Regions from separate parts of the Homo sapiens genome. Here all the other regions are linked to region 2. The links come from fine-mapping of genetic effects on gene expression. Tissue or cell type: whole blood. Region 2 holds a variant in brackets; each other region holds the start of a gene. Each region is shown on its reference strand, or each on the opposite one. Region 1 holds the start of CTNNB1 (catenin beta 1). Region 2 overlaps MNDA (myeloid cell nuclear differentiation antigen). Region 3 holds the start of FHIP2A (FHF complex subunit HOOK interacting protein 2A). Region 4 holds the start of MACROH2A1 (macroH2A.1 histone).

Region 1 (4,652 bases), not on the chromosome of region 2:
CTTAGTTCAAACGAAAAGCCTCCAAAGTAGAAATTTATGTCAATAATTTAAGCAGAGAATAAACCAGCAGTATAACATAAATAACACTTGAGACTATATTTACTATTTCTTAGGATGAATACAAGTCAACACGAAGACATCTGAAGGTATTGAATGTTCGTTCACCAAGTGACAAATACTGAAATGGCTTCCTAAATTCCAGACAAACTACAACTTAGCGATCTGAAAAACATTAGCCTAGACTTTATGAAAGGAAATGCTGCCGTCTCTTCAAGTTGATGTCTAGCCTAAGCCACCATTATTCATGATACAAAGCTCTCATTTCACTAAAACCACTCCTCGATTTCCTTTTGCCGACCTCTGCATACCAGCAGCCTAGTCTTTCTTCATTCACCACTCACAAACTCGAGGGGTGGGGGGAAGACCACAGATGTCTGGAAGATACAAAGTAGGAGACAACGCTCCCTCCAAAAGGGAAGAGAACGAAGGCAACAACTACATACACCCAACTGCCAAAGCTTTCAAGCTTGGCAGATTCAGAAGCAGGCTATAGGAACTTAACTTCGAAAAGTCTCGGTTCAAAGTCCTCTCTCCAGACAAAACACTGAAAGAAGTTGCAATGCTTGAATTCCATTTGGCCAGCTTTGGAGCGAAGGAAAAATTCACTCCGCTGAAAAGAAAACGTGCTCTATAATTCAATTTTAGCTGCCATCAAACTATTTGAATAAATTTAAATTATTTCTACGAACAAAATTCTCGAAGCGGTCTGAGTCAGAGGCTGAATCCTGCAGTTCACTTGGTAAGAAACAGTAAGCCATCACCTTCGCCTTCCTCCACCCCCTTATTTCACCAGGGTCTCATACCCACTACCATAAATCCATAAGACTCCCAGTACATTATCCACTGCTTTCACTCACCTGCATAGTACGCTAAAATACAGGTGCAAGACATGGATTTTTTATGTGCTCACCCTACTGACGCATCGCACCCGCTGCACTTAGAGTTTAGTTGCTCTAAGGTTTAAAGTTGCTTCGATTCAAACTCACATAGCCAGGGCATTAAAAAAAATAATAACACTTCTATTCTTAAGAATGAAAGAGGAAATCTTAAGAGAAAGTCCACTGGTCCGATCCCCAGGACTGATGGGACTTAGGGTGGCGTCTCTGCCTCAGCGCCCGAACCCCAACTCGCCGCAAGAGCTGAGAAGGCGGAGCCCCCCGTCCCCACCCCGCCCCCCACCCAGGGCCCGGCGCATCCCGAGGCACCGGGTCCCTCCCCCAAACTCGGCCAAGGCCAGAGCCCCGGACGGAAACCACAGACCCCCACCCCCACCCCCACCCCGCCTGCCATCCGGGCTCCTGTACGCGCCCCCGCGGCGCCCCCTCCCCGCAAGCGATGCCCCCAGGGCCCCAGAGAGGCAGCGCGACCGGAACCCGGGCCCGGCCGCCGCCCTCCGCGCCCCGGGCGCGGCCCACCCTCACCGTCCCCCACCTGAGCTCCCCGCTCCCAACCCCAGGCCTCCCGGCTGCGCCCAGCCCGCCGCCCGGACCGCGCGCCTGCTACGAAGTTTGGCTCCGAGAGGAAGCGGGAGCAGCCCCGGAAGGATAAGGAAAGGAGCGCCCAAGCACCTCAGGGGAACAGGCTCCTCCCGCCGCGGGAGTCCGACCGTCCTCGACCTGCGGTGGCGGCTCGGCGGGGACTGAAGCTGCTCCTCAGACCTTCCTCCGTCTCCGCCTCCCCTCGCTCTCCGCTCCCGGGGCCGGGCCAACGCTGCTGCCACAGACCGAGAGGCTTAAAATGGCGCCGCACAAGGAGCTCTTATAAGTCGCGCAGAAGCCGCTGTATCCTGCCGCCACCGGCGCAGCGCGGAGCGTTCCGCCGCGCGAGGACAAGGGGCGGGGCGCGAGGGGGCGGTGGAAAGTAGTCCCCGCGCCGCCCAGCAGTCTGCTGCCGTCTGAGCGCCCCGGGCCGGGGTGGGGTGCCTGGGCACCCCACGGACGCTCCCCGGGGTGACGGCTGGCGGCTGCCCGCTGCGCGGCCTGAGGGCAGCCCGTGAGGGCGCTGTGGTCTGCATCGGGGAGGCCGGGCCCCCGCGGCCTGGGTTGGGGAAGGTGGCCCTGGTATCCTCCCCTGTCCCAAGCCCGACGCCCCCGCCCCGCGCGTTTCCCGAACCGGGAGAGCAGCTGCAGGACTCGGCGCGCCTTTCCCGCGGCCTGCGGAAGGTGGCATCTCGGCCCCGGCCTTCGAGTACCGCTCGGGGCGGCCGGGACAGGTCCTGGGAGGGCGGAAGTTCGGGGCCAGGGCGGCGGCAGGGGCTCGGGTTCAGCGCCCGCCCGTCTTGGGGCGCTCCTGGCCCCGCAGCTGCCCCGTCGCTGGTCTGCGGGTTCCCGGCCGGGCGCGGGTTAGGGGGCCTCGCCGACCTTGTGGTCTGTGCCGCACACTCCCTGCTGGACCTGGGTCGCAGCCCAGTCTCACAGCACCCCCAAAGCCCCCCACTGTCCGGATGGTGGATCCCACCTCTCAGCAGGCTGTTCAGCTTGAATTTCGACCTGAATCACCGGGCCGAGCCGCCTTCTGTCCCCACTCACGAAGGCTGTGAACTCTCCGTAGAACGGGCGCCAAGCCCGCAATTCAACAAGTCCTTAGGAGTACCTACTGTGAACAAATAACTAATGGAAATGGATTAGCTCCAGAGCGCTGTCAATTAGGTTAATTCTTATAGATTCCATTTTTATCTGGTTCCACTTGTCACTAGGTATCAATAGATTTATTTGTGGGGATTTTTCTTTGGAGAAGAAGATTTTTACGGTATTACTTATTTGTGAAATCCAAGTATGTTTATAGAGAAAGCTATCGATTAAGCAGCCTCCAATTTTTTAACTAATTTTCTATTTAAAAACGTTTGTAATTCATTTCAATAGACTGAAAAATGTTTCCCATTCTAATGCAGCAAAATTGACGTTTGTCGAAGCTGCAACAAGTATGATCGATTCAGTTTCTCTAGGCTATTGTTTGTGCTTATTTTTCCTCCAAAACATTGGAGAGAGTACAAAAAGCAGCAGTGAAAGTTACCTCTGTGCTTTTATCCCAGGACTACAATTAATACAAGCAAACAATAGGTCTTAACACATAGATGCAGGCGGAAAACCCACTTATTCATTCACTCATGGAGGTAGGATATGTAGTTTAAGGCACAGCTCATGTTTCAGGGCCAGCGTATTCTTTAAATAACTTTTATTTTTGTCTTAAAGATATTTTACTATATAAGTGGTAATGCCAACTGCCGTCTGTCACCATAGCACATGTGGGCCACTGCAGTGGAAAAAGTCTACACACTAAGATGATGTTCAGTGAGATCCATTGTCTAGAAAGACCTTCTCATTTGTATCTTTCCTACTAATTCTGTAGAATCTAAGTGTAGCTATTGGTTGTGGTCACAATTCAAAAAGATTGAACCGAAAAAGGTATTTCATCAAAACCGTGTTTCTAATATAAACTCAAAAGTATAAATGGCGTTTTCAGGTACTGATTCCTAATTTTAATTGTCATTTGCAGAATTAAGGAATATGCAATTGATTAAAGTCATACATTGAAAATCAGACGACAGATTAACCACTTTTACAGGGCTTTTTTTAAAAAAACATGTTTGCTTTTTCTATGTGCAGGTTTTTTGTTTTTGAATAAGGCACTCTTGAAATTGGTTAAGAAATATCTGCACCATTAGAAGATCTAAAGGATAAAAACGTTTCTATATTTGTATTTCTCTGTTCCATTACCAAAATAATGGAATCATTTTTCTATAATTTAAATACTTTAAATTTAGAATTATGATTTTTAATCCCTACTGACACCGTAAACAAATACATTTTATTAAAGAAAATGTAAAATTTGCAACAATGCAGCATGCTGTTTTTCCCATCATATTAAGTGTACTGAAGAATTACTGGTTGACTAGCATTAAACCAAGTTAGTTAAATTTAACATTGCTCCTAATTTTTATTTGCATGTTTCATAAAGCAGAAATTGTTCTAGTTGTCTCACCAAAAATAAGAGATGAATAACTTCTGTGAAATGAAGACAAACACTATCATTAAATCAAAGAAAAATACATTATCAAGATACATGAGTTTGGTAAAATAAGTAATTTTGTTAAATAATTTTTTTGAATTGACCTTGGACAATACATTTCATAAAAACAGTTGGTTATCTGTTTTATGTCTTTTCCTTCTAGAGCCAGTCACCCCGGGTTTGACATAAATTAATTTTATAAAATGGCGACAGACAAGTGGTTCTAATTTTTAGGCTGTGTTCTTAGAAACAAAAGTGTCTCCAGCTAGTTTAAAAGAGAAGATATTTCTTTTCACGCTATCAGGCCACTGGCATATAAAGCAGTGGTAGACTGAACCTGAATGTAAGGCATCCCTTCGCTAAAACAGAGGCTTTTGATTACCTTTAAGAGAGGAAAAAAAAAAAAAAAAGCCAAGATTATTTCACACTTCAGACAGAAATATGAATCACAGAAATATGCCAGTATTGTAAAGAAGGTTCGTTCACTTTTAGGATACTTAACTCTATCAAATCCATTAATTAAACATTTATTGAGCATCTAAGACAATGAGCTTCCCTTAGAGAGAGGGAAACGGATGACTGGC
Region 2 (4,652 bases):
ATCTTCTGTGAGGCTTCAGTCCTGCTCCTCTTTCTCAAGCTTACCTGAGCTACAGGAATCCTCCCTCTTGCTTCCGATGTCAGTTTGTTTCTTGCGGTGGGTGCAGGTGCCGCAAGACCCACTTCTTCCTGGTTTATTTTTTTCACTGGAGCTTTTTCTTGTGTTTTAATTTTCTTAGCAACTGACAAAAGAAAAGAAAAAGGGCACAATAGGCCTAGAGTGGAATAGCTTATCTAAGACAGCTGAGGCAGTTTCAATATTACCTGCTGTCAGCTCCTGCATGAGAGTTCGGATTTGCCTGTTACCTCTACTGCATTAACCCAGCCTGGCTCCTAGGAGGCCAACAGCAGCATGGTAGGCATAGGCACTGTCTCATTCTCCTCAGTGCTTTACTCACTCCTCCCCTTTGCAGTGAGAACATGCTTCCTTTCCTGTGAACTCCATGTGCCTCAATCAACCCTTTCTCAGTCTTGTTCTCCTACCATTTCTTTTAAATATCTAAGGCTTTCATGATGCTGACAGGCTGGTCATGTTCTGTGCAATATCTGTTCAAATGACAGAAATATGACCTGAAAGGAAATATGATCTGAATTGTAATGTGGCAAAGTGCTAATATTGGCTTTTGAATTAAAAAAAGAACAGTGATTTATTAAGTGGAAAAATTCTACACGTCTCTTAATAGAACTATTGCTGCATAAATTGGTTAAATATAAATATTTCAAATAAAACACATTTTTTAAAGTAGCTTTTTTTTTCATTTTCTGACATTTTTGATTTACTGAAACACTCACCGTCTCATAAATCCCTGTCTTTGGTTTTTTATCCTTACCTCAAATACATTCTTCTAAATATATCAATCTCTTTCATATGAAACAGAATGTTCTAAATTGCCAACTGGTCAGTCTCTGAGGTGCCAACATCCCCATGACTGCTGAGTTATAAATTGGAAAAGGGATGTACCAGCTATGACCAAGGTGGGGTTCTACTGAAGACTGGGGAGACTCAAGGCAGAGTAGCTATGTGCAAGGTTTTCTCTATTACCTTTTGACTTCTCTTTTCGAAGATTGTTAACAAGGTTTTTAAGTGATGGCATATCTTTGGCAAGTTCTATTAGTTTGTCTAGACAGGCAACGCCTTGGAACTTTTTTTCCATCAAATCTGTAATCTTAATTCTGTTGTATTCCTCTTGCATTTTTGTAGTTAGTCCTAAATCATAGGCCAGTAAGGACTTAATTGATGTAAAATGATAATCATCCATGAGCTCAAATCCTTTCAGCAAAAGAATTTTCTTGTATTCATTCACCATTTCTGATGTTATAGCTTGGCCTATAAAGTAAAAATGACACACAACATTACACATTTATGCAGACAATTTTAAAAAATGAGATATGCTTTTGTGAGTGAGTGTCCCAGGCCAAAATGTTGTCCTTGGATGCGTATAAGAAAAAGGGACTAAGTTACCAGATATGTCACTGTGAACAATGGATCAAGACTTGCTTTATTAGGAGGTTCAGTGAAGTTCTTCCCTTTTAATGTTGATAAGTTGGGACAGAGGTGTATGTGGTGAAATGATGTTTGGAAACAGGTAATTGTTGCAGTATTTATAGTATGGGTTTTGTGGTGTCAAAGTCCCTGGTTCCTCTTCTGATATTTTATTGGGGCCTGAGCCTATCCCTCAATGCCTACCTCTTGGTTCCTGATTCTTCCCTGATTCTTCCCTGATTCTTCCTGGTCATCCACTATGACCAAAGTGGCCTAAGTATAAATGGGCTGCAGCCACTCACCTTATGTGAATAACCTTCTGCCACAGCACTACAGTTCTGAGTTGTGGAATGGACTCTAGTCCTTCTTGGCTCTCCCTAATCAGCTCTCGTTAGCACTTTTTCTCCCTGGGGCTTAGAACTTGTTCTCTGTGTCCTATGCATCTATAAAATTGTCATTTTGCCATCCTCCTATCTGCTCTCTAGTGTGGAATTGCAGCATTTATTTTTTGCACATTTGTTTTTTACAGTCAATTATTTACCTCCAACTAGTCTTACTTTTACTAAAAGGTTTCTGTCAGACAACCAAGTAGGTTTCTTTATGGATAAAGACATGACTCTATTTTTCCTGAAATCCTTCAATGAGTTTTGATTTTTATTAGTATAGATTTCTACTCAGCATGACTTGAAAGGCCTTGCATAAACTGTATCTTTCTTTTTGTGTGTGTCTGTTACTTTTGAATTTCTTATACCTTATGCTCTAGAAATACACAATATGTCTTTCTTTTTCAGGTCTTCTTACTGCTAATTCCCTTCCTGCTATCTGGGAAAGCATTCCCAGTTTTCTTCCTCTGAATACTTCCTTAGAGTTTTTAATGCTTAATTGAGGCTTTATCTTCTGCGAGCTGTTGTGGTCCCACTCTCACTTATGTGTGCCTCTTTAACCCCTTGTGTACTACCTAAGGGCATTCAGTTCCTAACGTATATTCCAATTTTCTGTTTAAATTTATAGGTATTCCTTTAGGTTGGTGACCATGTGTTTGTGCAACTTTTATATAATTAGAGTGTCCAAATTCTTAGGGCTGTAAATTGTTCTCTTTTGGGAGAACATGAGTGTTCCTGTGTTTAAACCTATCAGATAAAGAGAAATTTCACACATGGGCACATATAGTAAAGCCAAAGAATATTAAAAGCAAAATGATAAAATCTTCCAGAAATACTGAGTAGAACACCTACAAAGATTAAATAATCTGATTGAACAGTCTGCAGCAGGTTAAGAAAGTAATTTTTACATAGTACTGATCCATAATTATATGTCTGCAATTTTAAAACCTAAGAAGATACTGAAGGATGAAAAGATTTGTGCGGTTTGGGGGCTTGGGAAGGGATGAGAGTTAGCAGGGAAGTGTGGTAGCAAAATCATCTTGCAAATTAGAGATATAATGTGAAGTAATAC[G/A]TGGCTGATATGGTTTGGCTATGTCCCAACCCAAATCTCATCTTGAAATATCATCTTGTGATAGTGAGCAAGTTCTCATGAGATCTATGGTTTTATAAACATCAGGCATTTCCCCTGCTAGCACTCATTCTCTCTCCTGCCACCCTGTGAAGAGGTGCCTTCCATCATGATTGTAAGTTTCCTTAGGACTCCCCAGCCGTGCGGAACTGTGAGTAAATCAAATCTCTTTTCTTTATAAATTACCCAGTCTCAGGTATTTCTTCATAGCAGCGTGAGAAGGAACTAATACAGTGGCTATTTTTAATCTTCCTTATTCATCTCACTTTAATGTGAATAGTGGCATGATTTGTTGAAGAACTCTTAATGCATTTGATATTAGGATGTTGATATTACCTCTACTGGGACACTTGCAGTGCCTACATACAATGTATGCATTAAGTAGTCTTTCTAAAATCCCCCCCTAAAAAAATGAATTAAAAATCAGAGTTGTCCCAGGGGTTTCAGGTGAAGTGCTGTGAATCAGTTTTCAAGCAAAAATATTTTTCAAACTAAAATTTTGTATCTGGTCAAAATGTTATTTGAATGTTATGGTTTAAAAAATTGTTCTCTTCTCACTGAGAGTGACATTAGCAAGATTGCAGACAAGGACGTTCCAGACTTTCATTATACCATGGAAACACCAAATAAAGAACAATTTATGAACCAAACTAATGTTTTCAGCTGTTAAGAATTGGTTGCAACAAAGGAAATTCCAAACCAAGATTAAGCCACATTCAAAATAGTGGAAAACTTCTAGGTGTTTTTCTTTGTCCCTGTTTAACTTTCTCCCTTGAATGGTGTGACGTGATCAGGAGGAAACTTCCTAATTCCTCATTCTTCCTTTGGAATAGAAGGAAAAGTGTGGAACTGCTTTGCAACATTATAGCTTCTCTGTAGGTTCCTTGAGGGACTAGTAACTGCTTCACATGACTTGGAGCATTGATGGAAATGGTGGCATAGTTTAAATGTCAGATTTGAGGCTGCAAAAAGTAGTGGTGGGTGCTCCAGCTTGTGAGAGCTTCATGGGATCTGCTACTCCCTGGGTGCCAGAAGGCAAGAGATTATGGATAGAGGAATACAGTAGAACATCTAAGGTCATGAAAAGAGGCAGGTGTGGCTCTTAGGGAAATTACAGATTAAAAGCAGTGTGTATATGAGAGAATTACAAAAAATGCACACACATAAGCCCAGGCAAGACACACGTCCATATAGGCCTCAGAGAACGTTTATATTTCATACTTAGCTGAAGAGTGAAAGTCCTCCCCTGAATATGGTGCCAGTTAACAATGGTTGAGAGGGGGCTGTTTTTACAAATGTCCAGTTTTCAACAAAAGGTATACAAAGAAACAGGTAAACATGGTCAATTTTAAAGAAAAAAATGAATCTCCACAAACTTTCTCTAAAGAAACACAGCCCTCAGACTTTCTTGTCAAAGACTAAAACAGCACTCTTAAATATGATAAATGAGTTAAAGGAAAATAGGTAGAGACAACTAAATAAAATCAGGAAAATGATTAATAAAAAATGAGAATAGACAAAAAATAGAAATTACCAGAAAAAATTCCATAAATTCTGAAGCTGAAAAACACATTGACTGCATTGTAAAATCCACTAGAGGGGTTCCTCAGCCCACACCAATAGGCAGAAGAATCAGTTAGCTTTTAGACAGGTCATGT
Region 3 (4,652 bases), not on the chromosome of region 2:
ATTCATCATTGCACATGAGTTCATTCCCAAGAGAGAATGTTAAAAGGGGGGAAAAAAAGGTTAGTATAGAACATCAAACATTTTTCATGAGATTTAACCTCCTATCAAGATAAGATGGGTGGTGCCACAAATGAAAACATTAGGTCTAAGCAAATGAAAACATTACACTTCTAAATGCAATGCATTAATTTCAGGACTAGGTGAACACAAGCCACTCTAACTTTTTCTCACTAACCTCAGCAAAGTAGGCTAAGGATATTACAGAGCAGGAGCCAGATAATTTGGCAGATGCTAATATATACAATTATAAAAAGATAACGAGGACAAGAAAACACAGGCCTCCGGATAAAAATGAGCCTTTACTAGGAGAGCAGGAAAGCCGTCTTTCTTTTTCTAAGTACTTATTTCTGTAAATACTAGCCTGATGGGTAAAGGATATAAATATAGTTGGTATCTGTAGGGGACTAGTTCCAGGACATCTCTTCCTACCCCTAAGATCTGAGGATGTTCAAGTCCCTGTTATAAAATGGCATATTTTCATATAACCTATGCATACCTGTATTCTTTAAATCATCTCTAGATTGCTTCTAATACCTAATACAATGCCTACACATCACTTCATTCACATGGATTCAAGGCAGTACTTGAATATGGCAAATTCAAGTTTTGCTTTTTGGAACTCTGCAGAATTTTTTTCCCCCTCAAATATTTTTTTACTTGAGTTTGGTTAAATCACAGGTGCAGAGCCTACGGATAAGACAGCTGACTGCAATATAGTAAATTTTGATTACCAAGTATCTCATTAAGTGTTCCCAAGTATTTCATATATTCAAGGTTAAAATGATTCGGGCCGGGTGTGGTGGCTCACACCTGTAATCCCAGCACTTTGGGAGGCCAAGGCGGGCGATCACTTGAGGTCAGGAGTTCGAGAGCAGCCTGGCTAACATGGTGAAACCCCATCTCTACTAAAAAAAAAAAAAAAAATTAGCCGTGTGTGGTGGCGGGTGCCTGTAATCCCAGCTACTAGGGAGGCTGAGGCAGGAGAATCGCTTGAATCCGGGAGGCGGAGGTTGCAGTGACCTGAGATCACACCCCTGCACTCCAACCTGGGTGACAGAATGAGATTCGGTCTCAAAAAATAAATAAATAAATAAATAAATAAAATTAAATGATTCTTGGTATTTTTAAAGAAAACAAAATTTAAATGTTTTAATAAACTGCAGTTAAATTCTTTCAACAAAAGTAGAGTGTGTATAAGCAAGTAAAAACTAAAAGTTGTCTTGAAGTCTACCACTGTCATTTCCCTCCGTGTAATACTGCTCTACATTTATGAAACCCTGTTTTTCCTGTTTGATACATTTTCCCAAGAGCTTGCCCTAGAGCTAAATTTTTTAACGCTTCTCATGTATCACTTAAATAACAATTGTACTAAAGTTTGTTTTTATTACTGAAGGCAAAAACTCCATTTTTGCCTGCCCATAAAAAATCATTGTTGTATCTGACATTTTTAAAGTGTACATTTTAAAGTGTCCTATCACATAATATGAACATAGGAAGAGAATGTCATGTTAAAAATTAGCAAAGTAATTGTTTCTGCACAGAATGCATTTTTCAATTTGGGCAGTTCTCCCAGAATAAAGTAAACAAGTGAAGCAACTAGCATTCTTACTAGAACAGTGACAAGGCATTTTCTTTTTAGTTTCTTTTCACTTATTAGTCTACTAGGATACTTGAATACTGTCTCTATGCTGGTGTCTAAAACCCTCAAAGGAGAGTACAATTGCAGGATAAACGAAGAGTGTCCAGGAAGAGAACTAGACAAGAAAGGAAACAGATGGTCTCTGGGCTCGGTGAGCTTGGAAGCTGTCGAAAGCAAACTCGACTGGACCCTCCAAACTCCTATTTCAGATCAATACATAAGGTTCAGCTGAGTTCGGCCTCCAGGCCCAAGAAAGCAAAAGCCAGCAACCCGGGGGCTGGTCGGCGGCTCCCTCGCCAGGGACGCCCCACAGCGAGACCATGCCTCTCCCACCTCTACCCCCGAAAACCAAAACAAAACAGAACCAAGCCCAAGCGGTGCTTGCTCGTTTCTTTTGTCTTGCTCAACGCTGACCACTTTTTTTCCGGAGAAGGTTAACGTTAAGGGAGCCCGGGGGAGCTCTCTGCGACCCCGCCAGGTGCTCCCCGAACCCCCGGCCCCATCAGAGGAATGAGGCGACCACCGAGCGGCGTTGGGCGGCCAGGTCCTCCCCGGCACCCCCGCCCCGGCTCCTGGAGGAGGGCAGGGACTGCCGGCCTGGGGCAGCCAGGGACCGACGGGACCCCCGCAGAGCCAGGCCCGAGGCCCCGGGCGCCCCCACGACCCGGCGGCCGCCCAGGGCGCCCGCCTGGGGCCTCACCCCAACCGGGGACAGGGCCGCCGAGGGCCGGGCCAAGGCCGCCCGGCTTGTCCCCGAGGCCGCCGGGGAGCGTAGGCCGCCGCCATCCCCGGCCTGCCGTGCGCCCGCAGCCCGCGGCCTTACCGCCTCCACGGCGTGCTGCAGGATGGAGGTGAACTTGGAGAACATCCTGTCCCGGGACTGCAGCAGCCTCTCCCGGGACGACCTGGAGAGCTCCTCGATCCGCCGCCGCCGCCCCTGCTGCGGCTGCCGGGGCCGCTCCAGAGTGAAGGCCGGTGCGGGGCGGGGAGGACGAGCTGAGGATCGAGGCAGGGCCTGGCCCGGCCGCTTCAGGTGTGCGCGGGCGGCTCGGCGGCTCCGGAGGGCGCCGGGACGCGGCGGGCGGCGAGGAGGGCGTTCGGCGAGGACTCGGGGCCCGGAGAAGCTCCGGCGGCGGCACCGGTTGGGACACGGTGGCAGCCCGGCTCGGGTTCCTTCCCCCCGCTCTGCCCGCCGCGGCCTGCAGGGGGCGCCGCCGCAGCCCGGGGAGGCCCGGCCAGGCCTGCCCTGCGGCGGGGCCGCTAGGCGCCGCGGGGGCGGGGGGCGCGCTGAGGCCTCGGCCTCGCGCGGGGCTGGAGGCGGCCTGTGGGCAGCCACCGCCCTCTCCCGGCTTTCTCAGGGCGCCTGGGACACCGGCTTTCTAACATTTTTACAGCTCAGCGATTCTCAAGAGTTTTGTTTCTCCAGTGGAAGTAACAGGCTGACTTTGTAGGGACACGCAGCCGTCCATATATGCGTATAGCATTCAGAGGTTCTTCCTGTAAGGACCGATTTGGAAGACTCGTTAAGAAAACAGTGTTCTTTAAGCAAACATTGGCAATGGATTTAAATGCTCAGATTTTGAAGAAATCAACGACTGCAGGTGAAATGGCTTTGCTAACTTTAAAATATATTATTATTCAACATTGAAACAGGAAATCCCACATGAGCACATGGTAAGACGGCTGGCTTAGTTTAAATAGCCCATTATAATATTTATATATAATATATAACATAATTTATTTGTGATATGGTTGATAGTGAGGTGTAGTGATTCAGAACAGCATTTTCTATTCAGTTATCAGATGATACCGGAAAACATTAGCGAGGGAAAGAATCTGAAAGGAGTCCAGTAAATGCCTAAGGCAGATAAATAGAGCTACAAGGTAAGCACTTGGGTGGAGGCTGCTTAAAATACTCCCTAACAGTGTATTAGTCAAGCCTTGAAGAAGCAGTTCAGGCTGGTAAAGTTTAGGTTGAGTTAATACAAATTATGAAAATATTTGTATCCTGAAGAAATTTGTTTTATGCTGGTATTGGCGTTTTACCAAAAGGTTCATTAAGTTCTTAAGATGAGGTGGGGAGTGAGTTTTGCACAACCAGTGCTGAAAATACGTATCTGGCCCAGGCGCGGTGGCTCACGCCTGTAATCTCAGCACTCTGGGAGGCAAAGGCGGGAGGATCACTTGAGGCCAGGAGTTCGAGACCAGCCTGGCCAACATGGTGAAACTCCGTCTCTATTAAAAATACAAAAAAAAAAAAAAAAAAAAAATTAGCCGAACGTGGTGGTGTAATGGGATTACATGCTTGTAATCCCAGCTACTTGGGAGGCTGAGGCAGGAGAATCCTTGAACTCGGGAGGCGGAAGTTGCAGTGAGCCAAGGTTGCGCCATTGCGCTCCAGCCTGGACAACAAGAGCAAAACTCCATCTCAAAAAAAAAAAAAAAAATACACACACACACACACACACACACACACACACACACACATACATGTATACACACACATACGTTTATACATACACAAACGTATATATACACATACGTATATATACATGTATACACACACACACGTATATATATCTGTAATTGATTCATGGAACAGAGAAAAGGTGGCTGTCATATGGAGTGGTGGTAACTGGCCAGGCTCTGGGGCTGGGTAGCCTAAGTCCCAGCTCTGCCACCCACAGTGGAAAGTTATTTAACTTCTTTGTGTTTTAATTTGCTTATATGTCAAAAGGGGAGAACAGTACCTACCTCTTGAGGTTGTTGTGGGAATTAATTAATATATGTAAAACACTTTAACAGTGCCCAGTCCCTAGTAAGAGATGCACAGACACTTATACTTGTTCTGAGTTGTGGTAGTGGTATTTAGCAAAATAATAGGGCCAGAAATCAGGAATTAAGGAGGAGATCTTAACTGGGCTTCTTTTCCCTCCTGTTTTTGTGGTTTATA
Region 4 (4,652 bases), not on the chromosome of region 2:
CTAGCAATGAATGTAGAGTGAGTTTTATTTTTTGAGCATTTTTATTTTTCATGTTTTCAGAATGAGCATAGCTTTGTCATTGGAAAAAAATAAAAAACCTTTAACAGAAGAAGAAGCAATAGCAGCAGCAGCAGCTGGTACCCCTCTCTGAGCCAGATTAGGGGAGGAGACAGGTCACCGAAGTGGAAGAACAGGACACACAAAGCGCAGGAGGAGAGAGGGGAGAGAAGGTGGAGGCTTCTGGAGAAGGATGAGGTCAGAGCTGCTGCACTGAACAGCTCCAGAGGACAAAGGTCCTAGTGTGTTCTATGAGAATGGCACGCTGTAGAGGGGCATGGAGGTGGGGCCGCCCCAAGATCAGCTCTTGGAGGAGTGTAGACTTTAATTCCACCTGGTGGTCCCTACAGAACGGAGAGTCCTTGCCCAAAGGCACAGAGAAGGATGGAACAACAATGTGGTGTGTGGGGGAGGGTCTCTGCACCTTTCCTGACATCTTTTCTTCGGGAGATCCTCATAGAACCATAATGCTTTGTTTTGGGACCAGAAGCATCATAAGCATCATCATTTTTCCAGCTTCATCTCCTGTTACTTTCCCCTTCACCCATTCTACTCCAACCTCACACTCGCTCTGTCTTGACTATTTTGGACACACTCCTACCCCAGCCTTTGCACTTGCTATTCCTCATGCTCGGCGCAGTTCTTCCCCAGACATCCACACGGCTTGCTCCCTCAATTTCTTCAGGCTTTAAATGTTACTTTCTCATAGAGGCCTTCTCTTGTATTTGAGCCTCACTCTTATCTCACACTTCCTATTCCCCTTCTCCGCCTTATTTTTCTCCACCCCATGGAGACCCTCTGACACATTCTCCCGTTTGTCTGTCTTTCCCCCACGAGACTGCAAACTACAGGAGGGCAGAGATTTCTGCCTGTTCTCTTGGCTGTTTCATATCCAGCACCCAAATCGATGTATGACACAAAATACGTTCTCAGTACTTAATCGAATTAACGAATGCATGAATGGCAGGTATTGGACATTGTTTTGCAAACTCTTAAAGTAAGGTGTAAAGCATCCCGGTGAGGTGGAGGTTACTGCCGCTGCGATTCCCGCGCAGCCTGAGGACTGGGGGGTGGGGGTGGGGGTCTCTAATTACCTCCATAATCCCCAGTAGCGGCACTTTAAACTTCACATCAACCCTGAGGGATGTGTATTATTATCCAAATTTAGTTCACAGCTGGATGGAGAAGTGGCTTCCGGCTCCACACTTTGGAGGGAGGGGAGTAGAGGGCAGGCCCCCATTTAAGTACCCGGGATGGGGCACCAATGCCTTCAGGCGGTAAACCAATTTAGGAAGACGTGGCGGGCTTTGTGGCGGCTCCTCCTCTTTCGGCCTGTCCGCAGTTTTTAAAAAACGTGTGTGATGATAAGGAATCACTGTCTACATTAGTAATTCCCAACTTGGGTCCGAAAGTGAACTTTTGCTGAAGCGAAGTAGCTAACCGCTTCCATGTGCAAGGCAGGTTCCAGACTTCGGGGTGAGGAGGATTAACTGAAGGACCCCAGGGGAACCGGGTGCGCAGTAATTGATCTTGGGGCAGACCAGGGCTTGGCGGTGGCCTGTATCTAAAGACAGCGGGGTCTCTGAGGCGGGGCAGGGGGGAGTTGGCATTGACTGGGGAGGGAAGAGCGATCGCTGGTAACAGCCATTGTGCCTTCCCACTGGGTTAGTGGGAAGGTTCCTAAAGATGCCGTGGCAGCGACAGTCCCGTGCTCAGAGCCAGGCACACAGTAGGCGTTCACTCGAGACGCAGAGTCTGGGACGCGCCCTGAAGAAGCTCCTCTCCAGGGGCCTGGCCCTTCCCAAGGACTGGGCTCTGGGCGTCCCCGGGGTCATGGGTCAGACCTCGCGTCCGGGGTGCGGGCTGGTGCCTGGGCGCAGAGCGGCCGGCGTCAACGGGTAGGGCGCGGGCCCGGGGTCAAGGCCGGGGCGCCGGGCGGCACGGGCGCGGAGGCCGGACGCTCGGGGCCGCGAAGGGATGTGACGAGCGGCGCGCTGTGCATTGTGGGAAGCCGGCCGCGAGGACTGGTTCCAGTTCACTCGGCAGCGGCGCCGGGCGGAGGGGGAGAGCGCGGGCCGCGCGGGCGGGAAGCGAAGAGGCGGGCGGGCCAGCGAGGAGCGCGGAGAGAAAAGGCGCGAGCGGCCAGGAGGGCTCAGGCCGAGACACCTTGCAGCTGCCGCCGCCGCCACCGAGCCGCCGCGTAAGTGCCGCGCGGGCCCCCTTGCCGCACTCCCTGTCCCCGCCGCTCGGGTCCGGCCGCGGGTGCCCGGGAGCGGCCCGGCCTGGCGCGCACCGGTGTGGTGCGGGCCGGGCTCGGGCCGCCGGGTTCGGTGTGGCCCACGCCGGGTCCTCGCGCGTGCACTACGTCCTCCCAGGCCTTGTCGGGCCGCGCGGGATTCCCTTTGGTTTTGTTCAAAAAAGAAACCTGGAAACCAACTTCTCTTCGAAACGCATCCCCCTGCCCGCGCCTGGGCGCTTTTGTGGGAAAAAAGCGGTGCTGGCGCCTACCCTGGCGACCCTTCCTGGGGCGGGCTCACGGGCCAGGCCCGAGGCCGCAGGAGGCCCCGCGGCGCTGGCTAGGCAGTCTGGGCCTGGGCACCCGGGAGCTGCTGTGAGCAGAGTTGTACTTGGTGAGGCCCCCGCCGGCCCGCGAGTTGCCGGCCCCGGCACAATAAGTCGGGCCCGAGCCCCGGGGGGCCGAGGTGTAGGCGTCTGGCTCGCTATCTGCAGGGAGGGGAAGGCGGGGGCTACTCGCGGGATTGAAGCCGGGCTGGTGCGGGGGACCGGGTTGGGGAGTGGTCCAAGGATGGGCTGGAGAGGGGCCACGGGAACCCCCGCTGCTCCCGATTGTCTCGGTATCAGCCTTTTGTTTGCTTTGTGGTAGGAAGGGTTTGCTTTTTTTAAAAGGTAACTCCGGAAGGCTGTAGGCTTCCCCGGGTGGAGAAGGCCAGCAGGAAAGAGCCTCGCTGGGGGTGGGGTGGAGTGGGGAGGTGAGTGTGCAGGATGCTGCTGGCAGTGTCACCTGACAACAGGTGTGCGACATGGCGCTCCCTACCCCCACTCCTGCAGGGGCCACAGATCACTCAAGGAGTTGGTCAGTACATTGCTTGAAAGGTTCTTTTAGACAAGATGTTAGGGGAAATGTTTCTGAGTTTCAAAGTGAGAGACTTCTGTACAAACAACTGGGACAAACCTTGAATTCAACAATTACAATGACTATAAAGGCCTTGTAAGATTTTAATGACCCAGTAAACAGCACATAAGAATAGACAATTAGAGGGGGCACTCCTGCTAGCTTCCCTCTTTTCTTCCACCTTTGTGGTTTGAGGTTTTACCGTTAAAGTAGGGGGTAAGGGAAGTGTTTTGTTCCAAAGCTCCCTGCTCCAGGGAGTCGGGCATTTTTTAACAGTCTTAGGTTTGAATGGGAGACTCGAGTTGTAAATTAGGTGGAATTCACCTACTGCAGGCCACCTTTAGGCTACTAGCCTGTTGTCAGAGGTGTTAACTCTGAAATGGACACCTCTTGCCTGCAACTGGAATTAATACCCATTGTACACATTTAACTAGAGTTGGGCAGCAGCATCTCAGTCTTGCACAAGAGACTCTCTGATGAGGATGAGTATGTTTTCAAACTTATTTTTTCTTAAACACAACAAAACTCTTGAAAGACTTCAAATTCTTCCCCCTTCTAGTTTTACAAGGAGAGAGAAATCTTTCCAGTCTGTTCTTTGGCTTCGATCTGTCACCATTGTTAATGCTGATCCCTAGATAAGGCATTAAGAGGGTTGTCTAAATGAAAATTGTTTGAGGCAGGCCTTTAGAAGGAGGCATAATTTAACTCACATTTTATTAAACTTTAAGAATTGTCTGGAACTTCACATGTGACATTCTAGTATACAACCATGCCACTGGTTTAGTTTTTACCAAATGGGCCAGTGTCAGGGAGTGACACATCTCCATCTGATGTTTCTTCTGGTCCCTGAGAGAGGCGAACTTGAGGAGCGCCTCGCATTCCTTCCCCACTGAGAAGCTCAGAGGGCATGTGTTCTGGGACCTGCCTTCAGAGCTAATGCGGCCCCAAGTCACCTAAAGGAGATTTATTTAAATAAAAGCATAAACTGAAAACCTCAAGCCGAAGAACCCAACAAGACTCTATATGTGTTGTTCATCAGAACTGCAACAGCCTCTGGTTTTATTTGAGTGTCCCCAAGGATTTGTGACAGCCTTTTCAGAGCCCCATTCCTAGAACATGGGCTGGGAAGGGGCAGGAGTGATTGGGGCCCAGATCTCTGTGGGTCCTTCCCATATTCTGTAGGTTTAGAGGTCTTTTGGGCCCTGCCTCAGTGCTTACAAGTGAGCCTGAGTGAGTCAACTCTTCATTCCAAAGAGTTGTATAGCTTGTTTGCTTGGACCAAACCTGTCAGGTCAGTGTCTCAGAGTCTTTCCATAAAGATTTCCTGAGAATCAGCTCCTGTTCAGGCACTGGGGACACAGCCGTGATTAAGAAATGCCTAGCCCCTACCTTGGGGGAGCTGACTTTGGGAGAAGGCAGGCAAGTAGCTGTTGTAAAATCAGTGCAAAAGGCCCCACGTAGC

The links. PIP is the estimated chance that this variant, and not a neighbour inherited with it, causes the effect. A credible set is the group of variants that fine-mapping cannot tell apart.
Region 1: CTNNB1 starts here. The variant in region 2 is fine-mapped to the expression of CTNNB1 in whole blood (TOPMed, PIP above 0.99).
Region 3: FHIP2A starts here. The variant in region 2 is the best candidate, but not a certain one, in a credible set for the expression of FHIP2A in whole blood (TOPMed, PIP 0.89).
Region 4: it holds the start of MACROH2A1, and the variant in region 2 is fine-mapped to the expression of MACROH2A1 in whole blood (TOPMed, PIP 0.90).

What each region holds. Positions count from the first base shown.
Region 1 is chr3:41,196,647-41,201,298 of GRCh38, reverse strand. CTNNB1 (catenin beta 1) reads right to left here and starts at 1,794. Exons shown (of 15, transcript NM_001904.4): 1 at 1,629-1,794. RefSeq lists enhancers at 924-1,033, 1,744-1,803, 1,145-2,091 and silencers at 1,384-1,503, 1,934-2,393.
Region 2 is chr1:158,838,808-158,843,459 of GRCh38, reverse strand. MNDA (myeloid cell nuclear differentiation antigen) reads right to left here. Exons shown (of 7, transcript NM_002432.3): 2 at 1,042-1,326; 3 at 45-181. The coding sequence starts at 1,306. It also overlaps a transcript of OR6N1 not described here. Among named protein-coding and RNA genes, the nearest start is that of MNDA, 9.8 kb to the right of the region's middle. The variant G/A (reference allele first, on the strand shown) is at 2,938.
Region 3 is chr10:114,819,994-114,824,645 of GRCh38, reverse strand. It overlaps FHIP2A (FHF complex subunit HOOK interacting protein 2A), which reads right to left and starts at 2,866. Exons shown (of 17, transcript NM_020940.4): 1 at 2,523-2,866. The coding sequence starts at 2,567. LOC124902508 (translation initiation factor IF-2-like) reads left to right here and starts at 1,698. Exons shown (of 2, transcript XM_047426127.1): 1 at 1,698-3,373. The coding sequence starts at 2,545. The coding sequence ends at 3,150. RefSeq lists silencers at 2,168-2,387, 2,448-2,797, 2,808-3,117 and an enhancer at 1,962-2,462.
Region 4 is chr5:135,396,667-135,401,318 of GRCh38, reverse strand. MACROH2A1 (macroH2A.1 histone) reads left to right here and starts at 2,088. Exons shown (of 9, transcript NM_138610.3): 1 at 2,088-2,257. RefSeq lists enhancers at 831-1,336, 1,337-1,842 and silencers at 1,743-2,202, 2,213-2,382, 2,693-2,752.